2 separate regions of the Homo sapiens genome follow, and region 1 is linked to region 2. The links come from fine-mapping of genetic effects on gene expression. A gene starts in region 2. The other region holds a variant in brackets. All regions are shown on one strand. Distances are from middle to middle.

Region 1 (11,588 bases), 45 kb after region 2:
GGAGACCTCTCATCAGCCCCAGATCTGGGTGAAACCGGGAGTGGTGCAGACCAAGGGTGGGAGAGCCCTGGAGGACCTGCAGAGCCCACACGCGGTACGTCATCAGACAGCCAGGAGGGCAGGGGGCCCCTGGGGCTGGGGCAGCCAGACTGGATTGGGATGAGGCAGGAAAGTCCTCTCCCCAAGTCGCAGGACTTCATTCTTCACTCATTCGTCATCTCACACTTCCTGATGGGAATGCCGGGACACCCAGCGATGGCAAGTAGGTTTTATTTGATGTGCCAATTCCACCTGGTTGGTACCAGCTGTCTTAGGCACTGTGTCCAGTAGGATTCTGATGCTAAACTGGGGTTCAGGGGAGAAAGTTCAGGAATGAGCATCACTGGCTGCCCGGGGATGAGGGAACAGAATACCAACTCCAGGCCACCTATTTGCCACCCTTCAGCCAGGCACAGGCCACCTGTTTGCCACCCTTCAGCTGGGCAATGGAGATATACAGAGAACAAGGAGACTAGGTGCTTGTCTTTAGATCACAGGCTAGAAATAGCATGACAATAAACAGGCAGCGGAATGGATACTGTGAGCCTTGAGCCTATTAATTTAAATGAAACAGACTCTCAAATTGTTTGTTAAATAATAGATCTAGCAAAGCCATAAGCTTTTTATTGTTCCATCATGCACATGAGAGAGAAGAAAAGTGCCAATAATTATTTTCTGATGGACAGAGAAGTTTTTACAAGTATTTTACATCTTGAGAAGACAGGGATATCAATTATAACATTATTACCAGAGAAATAAATTTTCTAGTAAGACAACAGATGAGAATTACAGAAGTGGGAGGTTGGAGATTGTTTTTGCAGTTTGTGGCAATTATTTCTAAAGGCCCAGGAGTCTCCTTTGTTTAAAAAACTCTTTGAAAGATGCGTTTTCACAGAGAGTGCACCCATTTGGTTACTGTTAGGAATATTCACACGTCTGTATATTGCACAAGAGAACAAGATGCAGTATTCTTGGGAAAGTTCTCAATTTCAGACCTTATGAAATCCCTTTTAACTGGTTTTTATGGATGCAGAACAGCTCTCCTTCCTCCACAGCTGCAGGGGAGCGGCAACACATCATCTCTTTTTTTAGATTTCTTTTGTTAATTATGAACACTTGCAGTTTTTAGGCCAGGCTCTGGCCTAAAATTTCATCTTGAATTTCCTTTGATTTTGCTGTCAGAAACAAAGAAAAGGCTAAGGAAGGTTTTTCTGAATAAGAGTAAAAAGTAAGACGCCCAGAGCGGGTTTCTTCTCTGGGCCTGATGGGCACACCAGGGCAAAGTGGGAGTGGCCGGTGCTGAGGAACCCAGGCACCCAGCACCGTGACCCTTCTCACTCCCAGGCCTCCTGTGGTGGTCTTGAGGAAGGGGCTGTGCAGGTCCCTCTGGAGTGGTCTGCCTTGGCTGGGAGGATGAGAAAGATGGGGCAGGCTGTTGGCAGGCACACCTGACAGGTGCATGGCTGGCTGATTGATGAACTGTGACAGCCTGAGGTTCAGACAGCGCCCTCAGGGCACCCCTAGCCATGCACTGGGACTCCCTAAACTTCCTGGCTCTAGTCTAGGTGAACTGTGCATGAGGGGCTGGGACATGAGCTCCCAATACTGGTCTTTCTTCCTCAGGCTCCTTACAAGAGCTCAACCCCACTACCAGGAGGAGTTTTGGGGTGCCAGGTAGCTCAGAGTGCAAGGTGAAAAGGTCAAGGGTCTCAGGTTGGGGATGGCAGGGGTGGGTCTGCCTGGGAGGAGGCTGCTGGGGTGAGGAGGAGGCTCTTCAGTGAAGCACCTTCCACACTACATAAAATGGCTTTAACAAATTCAGGAATCAGGCAAAGGCTGGCCCCTGGGGTCTGCAGGTTCCCTCTCAAACCTGGGCCCAAAGTGCTTTTCCTTTCCAGGACCTGGCCCAGAGGGAAGAGAGGAGTGAGGCAGAGCCTGAGACCCAGAAAAGAAAGCTCACTCCCGGGACCCCTGGGCCGGGGGACCTGCCCTCCCAAAACCTGCCTTCCCAAGATGCCCTTGAAGGGCTGGGCTCGGACCCGCACCTGGGCCAGGAGAGAGCAGAACTTCAAAGACCACCAAGGATGGACACCCCTGAGTCTGAGAGGAGGACCCTCAGGATCAGAAAGCGGAGACCCCTCAGCGTAAGAGAGCCGAGGCCTCCTGGGGCGAGATCAAAGATGCTCCTCAGAGTCAGAAGGTGAAGACACACGGGGGCCAGAGCCCAAGGGCTCCTCAGGGTCAGAGGGAGGAGTCGAAGAGAATTTAGTCCTAAGTGCCAGGGAAAGGCGAGTCCCCAGAGTCCAGGGAAGAAGATGCTGCGGTCTTGGGAAGGCAATATCTCACAAGCCTGGGAGGTGGCTCCCGGAGAGGCCACTGTGCAGCCCCCAGAGGAAGGCGACCCCCATAGCCATCCGAGGGACTCCTGCGGGTCCCTGAAAGCACAGACTCCAAAGCCTGTGGGCAGGGAGAGCCCAAACCTCCGGAGAAGGACTACCACGCTGACGCAGAGCATGATCAAAGGCGAGCCACAAAGGTCGGCACCGGCGGTGGCAAAGCTGGGGGCCGCCCGGGAGGGGGCGTGGGCTGCGCTTACCCGCCCGAAGCCCCCGGCCCGGCGGCGGCTCCCAGGTCGCGGAGCCGGAGCCGAGATGCCAGCGACCCTGCGCGCCGAGGTATCCGGGCAGCAGGGGCTCCTCGGGGCTCTCCGGGGCCCCCAGGCCTGGAGCGCGATCCGCACGGGCTGCAGGGCCCTGGAGTGGGCCCCGCACCGGGGGAGCAGGAGGTGGGCCAGGCTTGGCTTCCGGGTGCCCTCCGGGGTCGGGTGGGGCGGCCCTGAGCGTCCCAAGGCCTTGAAGGCCGCGTGGCCGGCGCCCCTCAGCACCGCCAAGGCGCCTGCGGGCTTAAGCGCGGCGCAGCAGGTGACGGCTCTGCAGCGGCTGCTGGAGCTGCACAGCGCGGCCAGGCGGCAGCGCCGCCGGCGGGACCGTGAGCAGCAGCGGCTCCGGGTGTGTCCCCACGCCGGGATCGGGGCCTGCCTGGAGCGGGCGGGGCACCGAGGGGCGGCCGGACGCTGACTGCCGCCTCTGCAGGTCCTGGAACGCCTCCACATCGCCAGGAACCGCCACTGCCGGGTTCACCCCGTGGGGCTCCCGCCCAGTCCGGCTCAACTCCCGCCACAGGCAAGACCCCTAGAAGGCGGTGGGGCCACAAGGAGCCTGCGCGGGGCAGGGGCCGAGCTTAGCGCGCCCGGGTCCCTTTGAAGTGAGCGCACTGCACTCTGGCAGTGACTCGGCGGGGCGCGAGGGGCAGGTGTGCCAGGTGCTGCCCCGCCCGCCCCACTGAGCCGCGGACGCTCAGCGCTCCGCACCGCCAGGAGGACGCGGCTGGGCGGCGGCGCGCCCTGCGGGAGCAGCTGGAGCAAATGCATCGGGAGAGGACGGAGCGGCTGCGGGCCCTCGGGGCCAGGTGAGGGGCGGGCAAGGAGGGGTGTGGCGGTGGCAGGAGGCCCCTTTCCCTGGCCTCCGAAATGACAAGCCGCTCTCTCCCCAGGAACACCCAGAACTTCCTGGAACTACTGTGTTCCCCTGGTGCTGAGGATCCCGTGCCTGCGAAGTAGTGCTCGCCCTTCCCAGCACCCTCTGGTCATTGCTGAGTCCTCAAAGGGATGATTAAAGTGATGAGGGTTACGGAAAAAGCAAGAGGGCAACTTGCAGGTCTGATAGTTTCAGAAAGGCCTGAATGCAACCTCAGGGACAGGGAGAGCAGAGGGGCACAGACACACACAGCAGCTTTGCCCCACCAGGAGGCCTGTTATTTCTTCTTCCCTCCCCTAAGCCCACACCTGGCCCACGGTCAGAGGGCCAGGTCTCGGGGATCAAGCAGTGCGAAGGCCCCGTTCTTGCGGAAGAATGACTCAATGCGGCACATCTTGCAGGAGACCAGTTCTTGCTTCACTGGGGGGCCTGGGAAAAGATGTCAGAGGCCAAGCATGGGTTCCTGAGGGAGGGACACGCAGAGCATGGGAGCCCTGTCTGTCTGCACAGCCCTAGGAATCCGTCAGTGGAGTAGCCACTTTGTGGGAAGAAATAGAAAGTGCTTTGGAGGAATGGGAGCTATGGGCAAATACTGGGAGCTGGCTGGATGCCAGGATACAGCAGCCATCTGCCATCATTACCCTAGCTTCAGGATCCTCTACCTGCAGGGAGGGGGGCCACCCTAGCCTGCTTGTCACAGGGACAGACTGTGGAGAGATGAGATTTCCTTCGGCCTCCTGCTCCCCGCTTCTAGGGCTCGCCTCCTGCTTTTGTTAGAAAGTTATTTCCCTGACTTCCCCTTTAGGGGCCTGGGGGAAAGGGATGTTTGGGGGCAAAATCTCAACTGAGTCAATCCCCAACCATCCACCTTTTCTGCAAGACACTCAAGCAGCTGGAGAAGGGTACAGGGCTGAGGAGTCTCACTTGACATTCATGAGCACAGACAGCAATGGGACGTGCAGCAACATCGCCCAGCAGCCCTGCCTGGCACATGCCTGTTCCACACCTTTCCTCTTCATCTCTAGTTACTCCACTGCCTCAGCTCAGCTCCCTCCCCGCTGATGGCCTTGACTCAACCTCACAGAAAAAAGACTCAGCCGAGATGGACAGGCTTCCTGCCAATGACATCCCCTACCCGCTCTGGCTCAGCCCTCCTGCCCCCACTCCCATCAGATTCCAGCAACTTGAGCTCCCTAGGAGATCTCATGGATTTAAATAGCACCTATAGGCCAGCCGGTGGCTCATGCCTGTAATCCCAGAACTTTGGGAGGCCGAGACAGGCAGATTACGAGGTCAGCAGTTCGAGACCAGCCTGGCCAATATGGTGAAACCCTGTCTCTACTAAAAAAACAAAAATTAGCTGGGCGTGGTGACACACGCCTGCAGTCCCAGCTACTCGGGAGGCTGAGGCAGAAGAATCTCTTGAACCTGGGAGGCAGAGGTTGCAGTGAGCCAAGATCGTGCCACTGCATTCCAGCCTGGGTGACAGAGTCAGACTGTTTCAAAAAGAAAAAGAAAAAAAAAAAGCACCTATATTCCAATGACCTCCGAATTTGCATCTTCAGCTCTGACTTCAATCCAGACTTATAGACACAGCCACCCTACAGACACTTCAAGCATAACATAGCCAAACACACATGGCTAAATAGGACCTGTTCATGCACGCTCCAGCCCTGACCTCTCCCAGTCTTCCCTGTCACTGCAGCTTTAGCTAAACAAACACCTGGGTGATTGATCTCTCTTCCCCTTATTCTCACATTCTATCCATGGGTGAGTTCCACCGAGTCTTCCCCCAAAACATCCTGAATTGATTTCAGCTCTATTGCTGATCCCTCAGGCCACTACCACAGGATAACCAAACAGATGCCCAACTCATGTGCCAGATTCTACCATTTCCCCTGAAAAAGCCACTGCCTACATACAGGTCAGGGTGACTTTTTAAAAGGTTCACCAGTGTCACTCTTGAAATCTGCTTAGAACCCTCCATCAGCTTCCCTGCACAACAAATAAAATCCAAACCCATCCTTATCATCTGGCTCTCAGCCTCGGGTCCTCAGAAAGGCCTTTCCTGACAATCCAATAAATAGCAGCACGTGGCCGCTGCCTCCCTGCCCACCGCCACTCCCTAGTTCTGTGGAACGTGTCGACACTTCTTGGCCATCTCCTTGCTCTGTTTAT[A/G]GTCTGGACCCTTCACCAGGATGCCCACTCCCTAGCACATGGCTAGTGCTCTGTTTTTGAGGTGATTTCCAAGAGGTTGGGCTCACCCAGCTGCCAGCCATACGTGAAGCTGGTGGTGATGGGGAAGAGGTATCGCGTCTCTGGCATGTCCAGTTTTCGAGTGTTGAGGTAGCGGTACCGCCCCTGGAAGTCGTGGGAGATGCCTTCATACAGCAGGGCTCGGGTGATAGGTGGTACCGGGTACATTTCCGACTGAAAAGGCGCCTCTGGGACAGGGCTGGGCACCTTGGAAGGGGCTGACTTGGGGGCGGGTGGGGGTGAGAGTGGGGCTTTGGGGTGCAGGGTGGGCAGTTTGAGGGGCAGGCGGGCTGCAGCCTTAGCCTTCTGCTTGGCCTTCACCATCGACCCATACTTGCGGTACCATTCACAGCGCAACATCTTTTCCCTCAGATATTCCTCCTTCCAGAAGTTCTGCCGTAACGCGTCTATGTTGAGCTGCCGTGACATGGTGGCCAGGGAAGGAGTGGCACCAGGGTGGCCACAGCTGAGGGGTGAGCACAGCAAGCAGAGTGCTTCTGACGGCGAGTGGCTGCCCAGGCACAGTCACCTGGCAACCATGCCTCACCTCACACAGGGCCAGGGTTCTACTTGCCATGCCCCCAGCAGACCCCATGAGCCTGGCTTCCTGAGGCAGCCTGAGGCCAGGGCCCACTGGTTAAGAGCCCTGCTCCCCCCAAAACTCCCGCAGGGCCCTCGCGGGATCTGGCATCACAGACTCCCAGGTTTCGTGTGCTTTCTGCTTCTGTCCTTTGGATCTGGCCCCCTTCCCAGCCCAATGCCGAGCAAGGTGGGGGAAGCAGGAGCTGGGCTCAAGCCTCCTCCCATTCCTCCCCAGACCAGAGCTGGTCTTCTCTGATCCAAGGACCAGTCCTTGAGTTCTGCCTCCCGGCACAATCCTCCTGGGCCACCTCTTCTATGCCTGTCTTTGGCAGCACCTTTTCCATCCTTGCCAACCGAATCTGCCCCATGGCCTCACCCCACACATGTCCTTTCCAGCACCCAACCCATCTGGAGAGAAGCAAGAATATGACTTTAATTTAACATCAACAATGACACTGTGTAACAGCACAGGGAAGAGGTAGTGGAGGGAGATGGTCAGGCTTCCTGTTCCTTAACCAGCAGAGCCCCAGCAACCTAGAAGCGCCTCACCTAGCCTCTTAATGGAGTGGGAAGGAGCAGGGAATTGGAAATCAGAGGCTCAAAAAGTAAAGAAGGCTGATGGCAAGCCTGGGGAGAGGCCTGGAAACGAGGGAAGGGCTGAGGGCTATGAGGAGTCCCCTAGCGCAGGTCTTCGGCAGTGAACATGCCCCTGGCCCTGCGCAGGATGGAGTCCTTGGCGGCGTCATATGGGTGCTCCTTGGAGGGGATCTCCAGGACAGCGGGGATGGACTGCTGGTGGGCGTCCAGGGCATGCCGCACCATCTCTGCGATGTACTGGTTGATGAGGATGATGCCAATGTCATCCCGGTTTAGAAATTGCCTGTGGGGAGAGATGAGAAGGGAGTCCAGGACAGCTCTGGGGGCTGCCGTCTCTCCTACCCAGGCAGCCCTCTCCGAGTTGTTGGGCTGGGCTGTGGAGGGGAATGAGCATGACCCAGAGGGCACAGAGGACAAGGGGAAAGGCTGCCACGCTCAACCCTCTGTCAACCCTACCTAGAATCAATTTCATCCCAAAGCGGAGGGTCACGCTGATTAGGGTTGGCTTCTACAACACTGCCCGGAAGGCTTCCAAGTGAACTGGTAATGAAGATTGATTAGGGTGCACACTGGTGTATTCAATATGCAGTGATGTGTCAGAAAGGGGAAGGATAAGATTATATGTATGCAGATCCCTTTTTATGTGCAGATACTGAAGGCCAGCTGTGATGGCTCACGCCTGTAATCCCAGCACTTTGGGAGGCCGAGGCAGGTGGATTGCTTGAACCCAGGAGTTTGAGACCAGAATGGGCCACATAGTGAGACCCCCATCTCCCTCTCTCTCTCTCTCTCTCTCTATCTATATATACACACACAAAAAAATGGCTGGATGTGGCGGATCTATCTATCTATCTATATATATACACACAAAAAAAAAATGGCTGGATGTGGCGGCATGTGCCAGCTACTTGGGAAGCTGTAGTCCTAGCTATTTAGGAAGCTGAGGTGGGAGAATCACTTGAGCCTGGGAAGTCGAGGCCGCAGTGAGCTGCGATCACGCCACTGCAATCCAGCCTGGGTGACAGGAGTGAGACCCTGTCTCAGAAAAAAAAAAAAAAAAAGACACATTAACTTTTAAAAAGAAAACAAATTATTTAAAAATAGGGCTGATGAGACCACTGAAGGCCTCAAGGTCTATCCTGATGAGGGTGGTGGAGGGGTCAGAGGGAAAGTTTGGCATGAACTAAGATCACAAGCTAGGAAGAGGACACCTTGATGAAGGAATCACACTTTCTGCACAAAAAGAACCTGGCCTTGTGCTCCTTCTCTCCTGTGGTCACCCACCCATTCATTTGTTTATTTTATTTTTATTTTTTTGAGACAGGGTCTCCCTCTGTCACCCAGGCTGGAGTGCAGTGGTGGATCTCGGCTCACTGCAGTCTCCACCTCCCAGGTTCAAACAATTCTCCTTCCTCAGCCTCCTGATTTCTTGGGATTACAGGCACCCGCCACCACGCCTGGCTAATTTTTGTATTTTTAGTAGAAATGGGGTTTCACCATATTGGTCAGGCTAGTCTCAAACTCCCGAGCTCAGGTGATCCACCCGCCTCGGCCTCCAAAACTGTTGGGATTACAGGCGTGAGCCACTGCACCCAGACTCATTCGTTTATTTACTGATTAAAAATTACTTACTGAGCACCCACCCCCTGCCAGTCACTGGGTTAGATTTGATCTCTGAGGTCCCTTTTGGTTGGAAACATAAAAAATTCTTGAAGTAAAATTTGTCCTTCTCCCATGATAACTTGGGTCACTTTACCAGACAGCTTAGAGAATGGCAGATAACAGCCTCCCAGGTCAGGGACTACCTAATACACCAGGCAGCAGGAACCAGTCTCAGCCAGCAGCCCTGGGCTGGACTGTTTGGGGGAAACAGGTGAGTGGTTTATTCCTGAGACTTGGTACAGGGGCCCTGGAGAAGGGGTGAGGAATAAAATAGGAGGCTGGTATCCTTAATTCCAGTCACCAGGACCCCTGGTGGATTAAAAGCATGCCTGCACCCACACTCTGACCTAAGGCAGGCAGTGAGGGCTTGAGTGCAAGGTCTTAGCAGAAGGCTCTCACAGTCCCGACATTTCTGCCTACTGTGCTCAAGACTACAAGGAAATTCCGAGGCCGCCTGAGGAGACCTGCCAAGAGTGTGTACCTGGCTTACCGGAGGCAGAAAGGGTTGAGATTGGGTTCAAATTCTAGCTCTGCCTCTGCCGACTCGTAACTTTAGTGTGTGCCTTACCCTCTCCGAGCTTTAGTTTTCTCACCTGTGAGTAGGACAAAAATCATCCCTGCCTTACGGGACGATGGTGAGCCTCTAAAGGAGGAGAAAGCAGAACAAAGTCCAAGCCCACTGTCTAGGCTGTCACGAGCTCTGTTCCCCTTCTTTCATGACACACGATCATGTGAGGTGGGGGGGCTCGTGGACCTGATACAGCTTCTGTCCCACCGAGCCCCAAACGGGGACTTGGGGCGCGGAGGCCTCCGCTCCGGAAGGGCGGAAGGACTTTCAGGATCGTCCCCTCACCCCCGTCCGGGCAGCCTCCAGCCTCGCCCCGCACTCCACCGAGCAGCAGAAGGGCCCGTTCAGGCCTCGCGCGGTACCGTACCGGAAAGTGTCTTCGATCTCATTGATGGTTGTATCCTTCTCCACCACCAGGAAATTGGGATGGCGGTTCTTGTTAAGCTCCCCTATGCCGCCCAGCAGGAAACCAGTCACCGTGTCCTCGTCTCCGATCACTGCGATGAGCTTACCCCTCCCCGCCATCCCTGCAGCCGGGCAGAGCTCACCCTAGAGCACCAGAAGCCACTGAAACCCCGCCTCCGCCGTACGGCGCCCCGTCGGCCTCAACCCCCACCCTTCGAGCATGCGCAGTCCTCCCAGCCGCATTCCGGGACATGCGCATTAACAGCAACACGGCCTCCATGTGAATACGCCTGCGCCGTAAAGACAGGCCCGAACCAGGGGACTACGATTCCCAGAAGACCGCGCGGCACCACGTCCTTCGCGGGCATTCATTCGTTCATTCACTCGTTCCTTGGTTCATTCGTTCAACAAGCGCTTTGGACCTGACGCTGTTAGACGCCGAGACCCCAGAGAAGAGACGCAGTTACTCATCTCAAGGGCAGGGTCTGGGTCTTTATCGTGTATGTATGTGTGTAACTATGACACATAGTTAACAAGTAACACACGTTTGTTCAGTTAAAGGAATGCAAAAGTTAATGATGATACTGCCTAGTGAGGTGGAAAGTCAAGGGAACAGGCGACTACAAAGCTGTGTGTTAATGGTTAGAATGTGAAAAGTATATGGAAGCACACATCCATGGTAACTAACCCATGGAGAGAGGGGGCGTCCAAAGAACCCTTCCCCAAGAAGCTTGCTTCAGATCTAAGCTGAGACCTGAAGGACCTGCAGGATGAAGGGGATAGAAGTGAGGACAAGACGGTGTTCTAGGCAGAGGAACAGCATGTGCAAAGGCGTACTGACTAGAGAGCGTAGGGCCTTCAAGGAAAGTTAAATAATTGGTAAGGCCAGGCATGGTGGCTCACGCCACACCTGTAATCCCAGCACTTTGGGAGGCTGAGGCAGGTGGATCACCTGAGGTCAGGAGTTTGAGACCAGCCTGGCCAACATGGCGAAAACCCGTCTCTACTAAAAACACAAAAAATTAGCCGGGCGTGGTTGTGGGCGCCTGTAGTCCCAGCTACTCGAGAGGCTGAGGCAGGAGAATTGCTTCAACCCGGGAAGCGGAGGTTGCAGTGAGCCGAGATTGTGCCATTGCACTCCAGCCTGGGTGACAGAGCGAGACTCTGTCTCAAAAAAAAAAAAAAAAAAAAAAAAAAAAAATTAGCCAGGCGTGGTGGTGCACACTTATAGTTCCAGGTACTCGAGAAGCTGAGGCAGCAGGGCTTACTCAGGAGTTCAAGGTTACAGTGAGCTATGATCACGGCACTGCACTTAAACCTGAGCAGCAGAGCGAGACCCTGTCTAAAAAAAAAAAAAAAGGATCTGCAGGCTGGGCGCGGTGGCTCACGCCTGTAATCCCAGCACTTTGGGAGGCTGAGGCGGGTAGATCACCTGAAGTCAGGAGTTTGAGACCAGTCTGGCCAACATGGTGAAATCCCATCTCCACTAAAAATACAAAAAAAATTAGCCCAGTGAGGTGGTGTGTGCCTGTAGTCCCAGCTACTCGGGAGGCTGAGGCAGGACAATTGCTTGAACCCGGGCAAGGGAGGTTGCAGTGAGCTGAGATGGCGCCACTGCACTCCAGCCTAGGTGACAGAGTGAGACTCTGTCTAAAAAAAAAAAAAAAAAAAAAAAAAGATCTGGAAGTTATCCTGAGGACAGTTATCCTGAAGCTGCTGAGGGATTTCAAGTAAGAGAGTGCTATCGCCAAACTTACGTTTTAGAGCTGTCACTCACTGTTGACTGTGCTGTGTGCAGAGGCGAAACTGAGGGAGGAGAAACCAAATTGGGAGGCCACTGTGAGAGATAATGGTGGCCAGGACTCAGGTGGTGATAATGGGAAACGCAGAGAAGTAGGTAGAGCCGAGAGATATTTAGATATTTAGGACAAAACTGGTTTCAG
Region 2 (11,588 bases):
GTGGACATGCAGGAGATGGGGCTGAGGCTGGCAGGAGGCTGACCTGGCTCACAGTGCAGGCAGCATGCTCCTGGCTCAGGGCAGGGTCCTCTTGGGCATGGCTTCTGGTTGCAAGTGATGGTCCCTTCCTGTGGGAGCAGACTGAGGTGGCTGCACAGGCATCAGAGCCCTGGAGGGCAGGGCCTCTGGAAGCAAAACCTCAGCCCAGGCGGGGACATGTCATAGGGGCAAGAGGATGAGTTGGCTCTGTGGATGTGGGCTACCCTCTGTGTAAAGGCAGAAAAGAGACATCCTGCCCCAACCCGAGTCGTCTCTTGATGTTTTTTGTTTTGTTTTGTTTGAGACAGGTTCTCAATGTATTGCCCAGGCTAGAATACAGTGGCTCCATCATGGCTCACTGCAGTCTCGACCTCCCCATCTCAAGTGATCCTCCCGCCTCAGCCTCCAGAGTAGCTTGGGACTGCAGGCGCTCACCATGACGCCTGGCTAATTTCTTTTTATTATTTTTGTAGGGACTGGGTCTCCTTATGTTGCCCATGCTGGTCAGCTTCTGGACTCAAGCAATCCTCCTGCCTGGCCTTCCCAAAGTGCTGAGATTACAGGCGCAAGCCACCACCTGGCATCCTAATGCTCTTGACCCGGGAAACCATCTCTTTCAGGTGCCAGAGCTCAACGATAGCATGGACTGGGGAAGACCTGCGGACCCTTCAGAGCTGGGGGGAGTCGGGGGGCGGGGCGCGGAGCGGAATTTGAGGTTATGGAATTACTATTTCCCTGTTCCAGACTGCCGAAGAAGCCCAGTGGTCGTCTAGGCCACCGCGCTATCTGTCTGGCGTCTCCTTACAGGCCCTGGGCCTGGCCCAATGCTCCCTCCAGGTCAGTAGTCACCGGTAAGTGCCAGCCTCCTCGAGTGGTCCCTCCGGTCGGGGCCGGCGCGGTGCAGAAGAACCCAGCGCAGCCCGGGCAGAGTCAGCTCGGCCCCGCCGCCCCACCAGTGCTCAAGGGCGCAGCCACGCAGGAGCATCGCAGACAGGTGGGTCCCGGCCGCCGCTCTCTCCTCTCCGCGTCCCCGCGTCCCCGCGTCCCCGCGTCCGGAAGGTGGTGGGAGCGGTACCGGCTGTTGCCCACCCACAAGTCTAGGCCTCAACCAGGGCCCGCGCCCCTCAGGCACCTGCGGGCGACCGGATGAAGACTGGAGTAGGGCGGGGTCCGCGTCCAGCTGCGCCTGGAGACCGAGCTTCGGTGGGTGCCTACAGCAGGGCGCGCCCCGCCGGCCTGGGACCTCCCAGGCGCCCCTCACGCCCCGATCCGTTTGAGGTGCTGGCGCCCAGGGAACCCCAAGGCCCAGGCGGCGAGGTCGGCACCGCAGCTGGGGGCGCAGGCTCTGCTGCTCCCACCCCCCCACCCCCACCCCGCCATCGCCCAGAATGGGGGCTCCCAGGCGCCCTGCTGGAGGCTGGCTTGGTCCACAGAGGAGCGAGGCCCGATCCTTACTTTCGATGCACTCGCCCTCGCTCTTCCCGGGTCACCCTAACCCTTTCGGAAAAAAAGGTGGAGGTTTAAAGCGTTCATCCCCCGGGATCTTCAGGCCAATGGCAGGAATTGTGCAAGAGTTTGGGGGAAGATAGTGTCAGGTAGAGGCTCCGTCCGTCCCTGGGCTCGCGGCCGGGAATGGTAGACGCCGGCCCCCAGAGCAGCGGAGAAGGATGGGGCGCAATAGTTCCTGGGCTGGTTTCTGTAGGTCTTGTCCCAGAACTTAAGAAGGCAACAATGAAGAGGCTGAACGTGGAGGAAAAGTGAGACTAGCATGGCTGGGATTTGGAGGAAGATGGCGAGGACCAGCGCTGGCCTTGAGCGGTTGTCTCCGGACCCGGGAGGGCGGGAGCAGGTGCCCGGGAGCAGAGGCGGGAGTGGGGGACTTTCCCCAGCCTCGCGGCCCCGCTGGACACAGCAGGGCGAGGACCGGGGTGCTGCTCTAGCAGCCGAGGAGCGTCCCTGGGGGTGAGGGTGGCTCCACGGGCTGGCCCAGGGGGTGTGCCCCCGCGGAGCCAGCGGGAGGGGTGGGGGCGGAGGGGAGGGGGGAGGGGGGCGGAGGGGAAGCGGGGAGCGGGGGCAGAGGACTGGAGTGGGCCTGGGCCCCCGTGGACCCAGTCCCCAGGGCCTGAAAGTGCACCGGCTGTGTCCACAGAGAAAACTGTCAAGACCTCCCCTCCCCCTACCTCCATCCTCCCCCTACCCCGTAGCTGTCGGGCCTGGGGCTGGGGCTGAGGGGATCCAAGAGTCTAGGGAGTCACTGGGAAATCACCCCCTTTCATCTGAAGGCCCTACTTGGGGGTTTTCCCCCTGTACCCTGGTCTTCCCCCACCTTGCCTCTCGGAGGAAGCCGAAAGAAGCTTCTTTCTGGGCACCTGCTGCCCCAGAGCCTCAGCCTGTTTGGACCAGGCAAGCAGCAGGGCCTGGGGTGTGGACAGCTCACCTGGAGGGGTGGGATTTAGGATCAGGCCCAATGCAGCAAAACCTTTGTCCTCTCCCTGAGCTGGGTGTGGGTTTGCAAGGAGACATGCGACCCAGAACAACCCTGGAGGCAGCAGGGCGCCTGCCGTCTGGCCACTCTTACTAGGACTGCTGTGGCACTTCCTCCCCTAGCAGCCCCCTGGTACCAAAGCCTTGCAGCTCCTGGAGTGAGGGGACTGTCGCCTGGGACTCCACTGGGGCCCTGGGGTTGGCTGTGAGATTTTACCAGCCCGTCGGGAGCCCTTGTGCATCCCCTCCTCATATTCCAGGTCTGGGGCTCCCCCAACAAGTTTATTTCCTTTTCCCCTAGAGCCTTTCCAGTCCTCCCCATTGATCCGCCTCCTCCCCAAAGCTCTCCCAGGTTAGTCCAGCCACACTCAGCTTCCCACATTTTAGTGCTCATGCGTCCAGAGCTGACACAGCCCATCAGGCACTTGCCTTCTGCCCTCAGACTGCTTCACACAGTGTGGGGCTCTGCCTTCCTCAGCCAGGACAGGGCATATCACCTCTCATTTGCCTGGTACCCAGCACAGCTAGGCCAGTGCCCCTCAGAGCAGGTACGTGCCGTGGACTGCACACTGGACCCTGGTTCCTCCTGCCCCCAGGCTGGGCTGGCAGGCAGGGGCCAGGCTGGGCATGGGGCAGTGGCAGCCCCTCACAGAGGCTGCCCAGGGAGCTGAGGCACAGCCCATCTTGGGCCACAAGCCCTTCCTGCCCTCAGCCTTGCTACCTCTGGCCCCCAGGTGTGTCATCAGAGATCATGTGAACGCCCTGAACGCCTGCTCGGGGACCTTGTCTGTCACCATTGATGGCCCCACCAAGGTGCAGCTGGACTGTTGGGAGTGTCCTGAGGGCCACGTGGTCACTGACACTCCCATGGCCCCTGGCAACTACCTCATTGCCATCAAGTACGGTGGCCCCCAGCACATCGTGGGCAGCCCCTTCAAGGCCAAGGTCACTGGTGAGTGCCGGTTTGGGGGAGGTCCACCCAGCCTGCAGCCCAGCCCAGCCTGGAGGGCTCCGGTGGCCACGCACATCTAGGCCATAGTCTGCCCCCAGACATCATGGTCAGTTTACCAGGGCTAGAGGTGGGCCTGGCTCTACACAGTACACGTTCTGTGGAGTCGGGCATGATCATGTAAAAATGCCATTCTTCCTCTCCATCGTGGCCCCTCACTCCTTCAGCTCTGGCCTGCGCTGGCTCCTCAGGCTCTAGCACCACTTTCTTCCCTCCTGGCTTCCCATATTCCTCCGCTCCAAGAAGACACAGTCGGTATTGAGCAAGCTTCCCCTCTTGAGGCTGTCTGTAGGATGAGTTGGGTGGGTGTTCCTTTGTAAAGTGGCTCTTACCCTGTGAGTTAGCCTGAGTTCCCAGACAAAGCCTGCAAGGATGAGGGACGCAGCATCTGAGGCCCCAGCCCTAGGGTGGAGCACCAATTGGAGCTGGCAGCTCAGGGCCCTGGCTGGGAATGGGGCTGTGCTCCTAGAGTGGCCCTTGGAGGAATTTGGGGGGGAACCTCAAATGCAGGCAGTGAGTCCCACAGGGTGGCAGTGCTGGCCGAGGGTCCCCTGCCTGGGGAAGAACGGGAAGCCCTTCTGACTAGGTTTGTGCCCCCTCCACCCACCCCTCAGGTCCGAGGCTGTCCGGAGGCCACAGCCTTCACGAAACATCCACGGTTCTGGTGGAGACTGTGACCAAGTCCTCCTCAAGCCGGGGCTCCAGCTACAACTCCATCCCCAAGTTCTCCTCAGATGCCAGCAAGGTGGTGACTCGGGGCCCTGGGCTGTCCCAGGCCTTCGTGGGCCAGAAGAACTCCTTCACCGTGGACTGCAGCAAAGCAGGCAGGTGGCGGGGGGAGGGCGTCTCCCGGGGTGTGAGCAAGAAGCCGTCAGGGAGCAGGGTGTGGGTCACAGTAGGGGACTCCCTGGTGTGAGCCTGTCCCTCTGCCTCCCTCTCCAGGCACCAACATGATGATGGTGGGCGTGCACGGCCCCAAGACCCCCTGTGAGGAGGTGTACGTGAAGCACATGGGGAACCGGGTGTACAATGTCACCTACACTGTCAAGGAGAAAGGGACTACATCCTTATCGTCAAGTGGGGTGACGAAAGTGTCCCTGGAAGCCCCTTCAAAGTCAAGGTCCCTTGAGTCCCAAAAGTGCCTCCCCAGCCTCAGCCCCCACCTCCAGCCAAACACACATTACATACACACACACACACACACAAATGTGCCACACCCAGACACACACACACAGAATCAGACACTACAAACACCTGCCTTGGGGGTGAAGTGAAGGCCCAGCCTCCCCACCCCACCGCACCCCAGGGGTTGGAGGACCTTTTCTGTGTCAGGACAGTGTCCCTCCCTGGGAATGTGATATGAGGGCCGACTGGGGCCAGGCTCAGTGGCAGAGGCTAAGACACAAGGGACTGGAAGGGGACTGTGGGGCGAGGGAAGCCCTGTGCATCCTCCCAGTGTGGTTTAGAGCTGCTCACCCTGATTCTCTCTGATTCTTTCTGTAAAATGGGGATGGAGGTGCCCCCATTCTTCATAAGGGAAGTAAAAATTGCTCATACCTCTGTGCCAAGCACCATGCATTACTAATCCTTACAAACACTCCATGAGGTGGGTGCTGTTAGAGCTCCAGTCACAGTTCAGAAAAATCAGCCACCAAAAGTGAAGTGACCAGCCAGAGGCCCCAGAGCAGAAAGCAAGAGCTCCAGGATGCGCCCTGGCAACCCTGCCAGAATCTGTGCTCTGAACCGTCCCACTACCCAGCCCCTCAGAGGACTTGCTTTCCAGAGGCACCCGGTCAATGAAAGCCACCTTCCTTAAACCTGCCAGGAATAGTGCTGCCGCTTCCTTGTTCCTCTTCTGGCTGGCTGGCCCTGGCTTTCCTCTGTGACCTCAGCTCCAGGCACTGAGGCCAGGTCTTAGCGTGGCATTGCAGCCTCCCTGCCCCCTGTGGCAAAGGCTCAGGTCCACTATGGGCCCAGACTCTGGGGCAGAGAAGCTGCCGTCTCCTTACTGAAGCTTTAAGCTTGGTGGAGAGTGGGCTGGGGAGACCTCAGTCCCTGCCTGGTCTAGGGGGAGGGGTGGCTTCCGACTTCTGGTCTTTATGACAGGGAGGGAGAGCTTTGGAAGGGTTCACAGCTCCGCCCTCAATGTTCCTTTTTGCCTGTGAGCTTCGCCTGTGAGACCCAACCCTCTGCTTCCCAGCTTCAAGGAGGAGTTTCCCAGCCTGTGGGCCCACAGGGACGGCTGTCCTCACTTCCTCCCTTTGGCCCCCTCTGCCTGCTGAGCCCAGGGCCCAGCCCTGCCCCCTACCCAGGCTCACCCCACAGCCAGGCCTGAGCTCAGGAGTGGGAAATGGGGCTGAGACCAGCCAGTGAAGGGCGGCCTTGGCATTTGGGGCCAAGCCTGGGACTGCTGGGGTGGGTAGGGGTGTTGAGTGGAGTTCAGGAAAGAAACTTATAGGGGAGAGAGGAAAACACTGGTCGTGTCCATGATTTCAGAGATCAGGAGTTCTTATTATTATTATTTGTTATTTACTGAGCATTTACCATCTCTCTACCGACTCTAAATTCTTTACTTATATAATCTCACTTAATGCTCACTGCAAGTCTATAAAGTAGATGTGGTGATCCCCAGTTTACAGATAGGGAAATTGAGGCACAGAGAAGTTAGTGGTCTAAGGCCACATGGAATTGGCTGAGCAGGGATCTAAACCCAGCTCAGTCTGCTTCTTCTGTAAACTTGTGAGAGAGAGGAAAAATCGATCTGGAAACCCTAGGGCGATGGAGTAACCTAAAAGGGCAGGGAGACTCTCTAGGATCCCGAGAGGGGTGGACTTGGGTTTATTTTCTTTTCAGGGTCTCCTCCTGGATCTTAAGCGGAGACAAGGCCTACACCCCCGTTGGGCTTCCTGCGAGCTGGAGCTGCTCTCTGGGGTCAGGACCGGCCGGGCCCGGGGCGGGTGGAGGTGTGCATGGGAAAGGCGCGCGCGGTGGGGGGTTTGAGCCCTCCCTGAACAAAGCCTGGGTGGGAGCGGCCTGTGTGTCCCCACCCCGCCTTCCCCAGCGCCTGCTGAGCCGCGACGACAGACGGCGAGCCGAGCGAGGCGGAGCTAGCATGGCCGGGGTCGGGGCCGCTGCGCTGTCCCTTCTCCTGCACCTCGGGGCCCTGGCGCTGGCCGCGGGCGCGGAAGGTGAGTCCAGGTGCGGGAGGCTTGGGGTCCGGCCAGGTGCGCCCCCTCCCTCCTATCAGCCCGGCCTGAGGGGGCCGAGAGGGGCTGGGGGCTCTGCTCTTAGCCCTGCCTGAGGTTCGCGCGCCTCCCTGGCCAGCTCCGTCCTCCCCGTCGGGGGAGCGAGCAGGGTGGGGAAGACCACGGCCAAAGCAGGGGGTTCAGGAGAGGGGGGCGGTTCCTGCAGCCGGCGGCGGGAGAGAGTGCGGCTGCCCTGGCATCTGGGAGTCTGAAGTTAATTATTTGTCTTGACGAAGGAGGGGGAGAAAAGGGGCCCGCTGTGGAAGCTGACTTTGCATCTGTGTCTGGCCCTCCCCGGAGCAGGACAGGCGGGAATGGAGGGCTCGGTGCCGGCACGGGGCCAGGGGAGGCTAAGAGGGGAACCCGGGACAATTCCTTGGGGACCAGCCAAGTTTGTGCCACTCGGAGCTCTTTCTGCAGGTCTCTCCAGGCGAGGCTGGCCCTAGCTTCACCTAGGGGTCCCAGAGGATTCAGCTTCTCCCGGGCTCCCATATCCTGCCTGCCTACTTAAGCAGAACTGGAGGAGTGGCCTGGGAGGAGGGGCCCTGGGCAGCAGGATGAGGCCCCACGGGAGTCTAGATTGGGTAGAAGGTTTCAGATGCTGAGACGCCCATCGTGGCCGCCCTCTGTGTGCTTGGGAAGGACTGAGACCGGGTGCCATTCCGGGTGACAGGATCCCCAGTAGAGGGACGGAGATGGGAAAGGGCACCTGGGGTTTGAGGGCCAGTATTCGCCCAGGGTGCGGGAACTGAGTTAGAATCCCTGATATAAGCCAGAAGTAGCGGGGCTGGAAAGGTGGGCGGTGCTTGTGATCCATCCCAGCGGGACTTGCTCCTGGGAGACTTCGGCTGTGTGATTCAGAAAGGTCGAGTGGAGAGAAGGGGCACAGATGGAGGCAGGGACGCTTTGTCTTCAGCCTTCTGAATGGAGATGGTGGAGAGAGGAGAAGGGGGGGATGTATTAGGGGACAACTCAGGCAACAAAATAGGGGAGCTGAGCCCCAGCTTTCTGGCTTAAGTAACTGGGTATGTGTGATGGCATTAACCAAGCCAGGGAACTTGGGACAAAGCAAGTTCAATTTTAGCCTAGAATCCCCTCTGCCTTTGATGGTGACAGTGGGTGACATTGTTCCCCTGTCTCACAGGCCTAGTGTCTGTGAGAAACCCTTTTAAGCCACTCCAGGCCTGGCCTCACTAATGAGCTGCCATGGTGGGAAAGACCCATCCCTCTCCCTCCTCCTCTCTCTGTTCCTATTGCCTCCGCTCCAGACCCTCAACTTCCCTGCCCATCCCTGCCTGGAGGAGGGACCTATGTCTGCCTCTTCCCCTCCTGCCTTTACTTTCTGGGCTGCAGGAGAAGGATCAAAGTGAAAAGGTGAAAGTGGCCGCCCCTAACCCCAGGCCAGAGCTCAGAGGTGCCCCGTCCCTCTTTCCTGGACATAGTGTCTTCTAGAAGCAGGGACAGGCTGTCTTCACTGGATCTGGTGTGTTCAAAGTTAGCAGGGGCCTTGCCAGCACATTTCTCACACCCTTCAGAAAATGCAGCCAAGTCCCACTTTTGAAGCCCACCCCACCCAATGTGGGAGCCCCCAGGAACCCCTGTCACAAGCCTGGAAAACCGTGCTCAGGGTTGGGGGCGGGAGCAGTTGTCCTTCCCTGAGCACATTCTCCAAAAGTTGTGGCCTTTCTGACAGGTGCAGAGAGTCAGGGGATGGGGGCTGCTCATGTTCTCCCTGAAAAGACTCTCAGCCAGACCCCAGACCCCTGAAAGCAGCTCCACCTGGCGCATGTCTGTGGCCTTCCCCTGCGTTTCAGCCTGTGCTGGCTTCCCGGCCCTGGATGGTGGGTGGGCAATTGGAGAGGGCAGGGTGCACAGGATGACCCCCTTCCCCTGTGGGTCAGAAGACAGAACCCAGAAAATGTGGCCAGGCCAGCCCCTCACCCTCAGGCCCACATGGGATTCTTGTGCCCTTCAGGTGGGGCTGTCCCCAGGGAGCCCCCTGGGCAGCAGACAACTGCCCATTCCTCAGTCCTTGCTGGGAACTCCCAGGAGCAGTGGCACCCCCTGCGAGAGTGGCTGGGGCGACTGGAGGCTGCAGTGATGGAGCTCAGAGAACAGGTACCATGGAGACAGTGCTGGTTTGCATTGGGTAAGGAGGGCTTCTCATAGTGGGAGGGAGAGAAGGAGTTAGGCTTGGAGGGGGGAGCCTAAAATAGAGCTCTTATCTGAACAATTCCCTTTCTTTCTTTCTTTCTTTCTTTCTTTCTTTCTTTCTTTCTTTCTTTCTTTCTTCTTTCTTTCTTCCTTTCTTCTTTCCTTCCCTCCTTCCTTTCTTTTTTTTTCTTTCTTTTCCTTCCTTCCTTCCTTCCATCCTTCTTCTCTCTTTCTCTCTCTCTCTTTCTTTTTTTTTTTTTTGAGATGGAGTCACCATGTGTCACCCAGGCTGGAGTGCAGTGGCACAATCTCAGCTCCCTGCAACCTCTGCCTCCTGGGTTCAAGTGATTCTTACGCTTCAGCCTCCTGAGTAGTTGGGACTACAAGTGTGCACCACCATACCCGGCTAATTTTTGTATTTTTAGTAGAGATAGGATTTCACCACGTTGGCCAGGCTGGTCTCGAACTCCTGACCTTAGGTGATCTGCCCGCCTCAGCCTCTCCAAGTGCTGGGATTACAGGTGTGAGCCACCAGGCCTGGCCAGAACAATTCTTAACATTGATTCTTTCATGCAAATGAAGAACCTCCAGGCTATTTGTTTTGTCAGTTCGTGTTTCGTACTGTTCCATGTATTTGGGGAATGTTATGGAATGCATTCTATATAAGGCATCATCAAAAATATTTTGGATGGGTAAAGATGTCTTTAATTCTTGGGGCAAGGGTTGGGTCCCCATTTTGTCCAAAGGAGAGATTGGGGCCCGTGCCCCCCTGAGAATGGTGATCGTTTGAGCTGGATGCTGACCGAGGGGGACCCATCTCTGCTCTGGAATTGGCGAACTTCTTTCTCATCCTGCCTCATTTTCACACCCCTCATCTCTACTGGAGATGGTGGGGGAAGCTGAGCCAGTGCCTGCTATTCCATCTCCTTCCTCCAGAATAAGGACCTGCAGACGAGGGTGAGGCAGCTGGAGTCCTGTGAGTGCCACCCTGCATCTCCCCAGTGCTGGGGGCTGGGGCGTGCCTGGCCCGAGGGGGCACGCTGGGAGCCTGACGCCTGCACAGCCTGCGTCTGCCAGGATGGGGCCGCTCACTGTGGCCCCCAAGCACACCTGCCCCATTGCAGGGGTAAGTGCCACCCTATCCGCCCACTGGGGCCACCTAAAGACCTGCAGATGGCATGGGGTGCTTGAGTGACACTGCTGTCTCCTTAGGCTGCAGCCAAAATGGCCAGACCTACGGCAACGGGGAGACCTTCTCCCCAGATGCCTGCACCACCTGCCGCTGTCTGGTAAGCTCCCAGGACCTACCTGGATATCCCTCACCTGTCTGCCTCTCTCCAGCTACCTGTCACTGCAGCGTGGCACTCAAGATGTCGCATAATGGGCTCTGCCTGCCACTCCCACACCTTGCCACGGTGGCTTTCAGTTGATTCCGAGTAGGAAAAGGAGCTCAATGCCCACGGACACTGGGGGGTCCCCAAGCCACTCAATTCAGACCTGGCCAACAGTGGCATGGAGGGCAGAGAATGTATTAGGTTGGTGCAAAAGTAATTGCGGTTTTTGACATGACTTTTAATGGCAAAAACCGCAATTACTTTTGCACCAACTTAATAGTTGCTTGTCCTCCTATATCACCTCCCACTCTTCCACTGCCCATCTTCTACTTCGGAACCCCCTGGCCTGCCTATTCTCCCTCACCAGTTGCCACATCCACCTTCCCCCAGTCTTTCCTTCCTCCTTCCTCCCTGAGAAAGTCTTCGGTCTTCTTCCTAGGATCTCCCCTCTCTGGGGAATGTGCTGGCACCTGGAAGAGATGGTTTCCTAGGGTTAAGAGCATCAGGAGACGATGGGAGTGGGGGCGGGATGTCTCTTTTCTGCCTTTACACAGAGGGTAGCCCACATCCACAGAGCCAACTCATCCTCTTGCCCCTATGACATGTCCCAGCCTGGGCTGAGGTTTTACTTCCAGAGGCCCTGCCCTCCAGGAATCTGATGTCTGTGCAGCCACCTCAGTCTGCTCCCACAGGAAGGTACCATCACTTGCAACCAGAAGCCATGCCCAAGAGGACCCTGCCCTGAGCCAGGAGCATGCTGCCCGCACTGTAAGCCAGGTCAGCCTCCTGCCAGTCTCAGCCCCACCTCCTGCTTGCCTTCTCTGGCCCACAGACACAGCCTGCCACCTCAGTGAGTCTGGGACATGCCCAGGGGTGCCTACCCACTCACTCTGACAGTGGCCAGGGGAGTGCAGAACCCATGCACAAATCAGCAAATACTGGCTCTGGCCTGGGACTGAGCCAGAGACCATAGGGAAACAGGCACAAAATCTTTTTCCTGCCCTCAGGGAGCCTCCAATCTAGTTGAGAAGATAAGCTCATAGCCAAGCTACCACAAGATTGAAGACCCAATGAGCAGATTAAGAGGAGGTGTAGAAGGCAGTGCAGTGTGTATTTTGCCAGAGGAGGGCACAGGAGGCAGGGGAAGCCCGTCGAGGCTGGGCAGTCAGGGGGCCTTTACAGACAATGGGTCCTTTGAGCTGGGTCTTCATGGGAAAGTGGGGTTCCACCTGAAGGAGAGGGAGTACGTGAGGTTCCTCTGGGCACAAGGACAGGGTGGAGAGAGGTGGGTTGCAGGAAGTCCATGTGGGAAGGCCAGTGGGA

Alleles and levels. Positions count from the first base shown, and alleles are read on the strand shown. Sizes are in standard deviations (SD) of each study's normalised expression.
As copies of G replace A in region 1, the expression in anterior cingulate cortex of the gene that starts at base 6,612 in region 2 goes up (small effect, 0.25 SD a copy in GTEx).

What was found.
Region 1: its variant is fine-mapped to the expression of KCP in anterior cingulate cortex (GTEx, PIP 0.98).

What each region holds. Positions count from the first base shown.
Region 1 is chr7:128,861,082-128,872,669 of GRCh38, reverse strand. It overlaps ATP6V1F (ATPase H+ transporting V1 subunit F), which reads right to left and starts at 9,814. Exons shown (of 2, transcript NM_004231.4): 1 at 9,608-9,814; 2 at 6,823-7,293. The coding sequence starts at 9,765. The coding sequence ends at 7,092. SPMIP1 (sperm microtubule inner protein 1) reads right to left here and starts at 6,340. Exons shown (of 2, transcript NM_001195150.3): 1 at 5,840-6,340; 2 at 623-4,004. The coding sequence starts at 6,260. The coding sequence ends at 3,895. FLNC-AS1 (FLNC antisense RNA 1) reads left to right here and starts at 10,044. Exons shown (of 4, transcript NR_149055.1): 1 at 10,044-10,145. RefSeq lists silencers at 2,533-2,652, 2,713-3,232, 3,363-3,472 and enhancers at 9,521-10,010, 10,091-10,200. The variant A/G (reference allele first, on the strand shown) is at 5,754.
Region 2 is chr7:128,905,733-128,917,320 of GRCh38, reverse strand. KCP (kielin cysteine rich BMP regulator) reads left to right here and starts at 6,612. Exons shown (of 40, transcript NM_001366122.1): 1 at 6,612-6,720; 2 at 8,753-8,895; 3 at 9,868-10,057; 4 at 10,144-10,220; 5 at 10,958-11,042. The coding sequence starts at 6,645. It also overlaps the pseudogene LOC392787.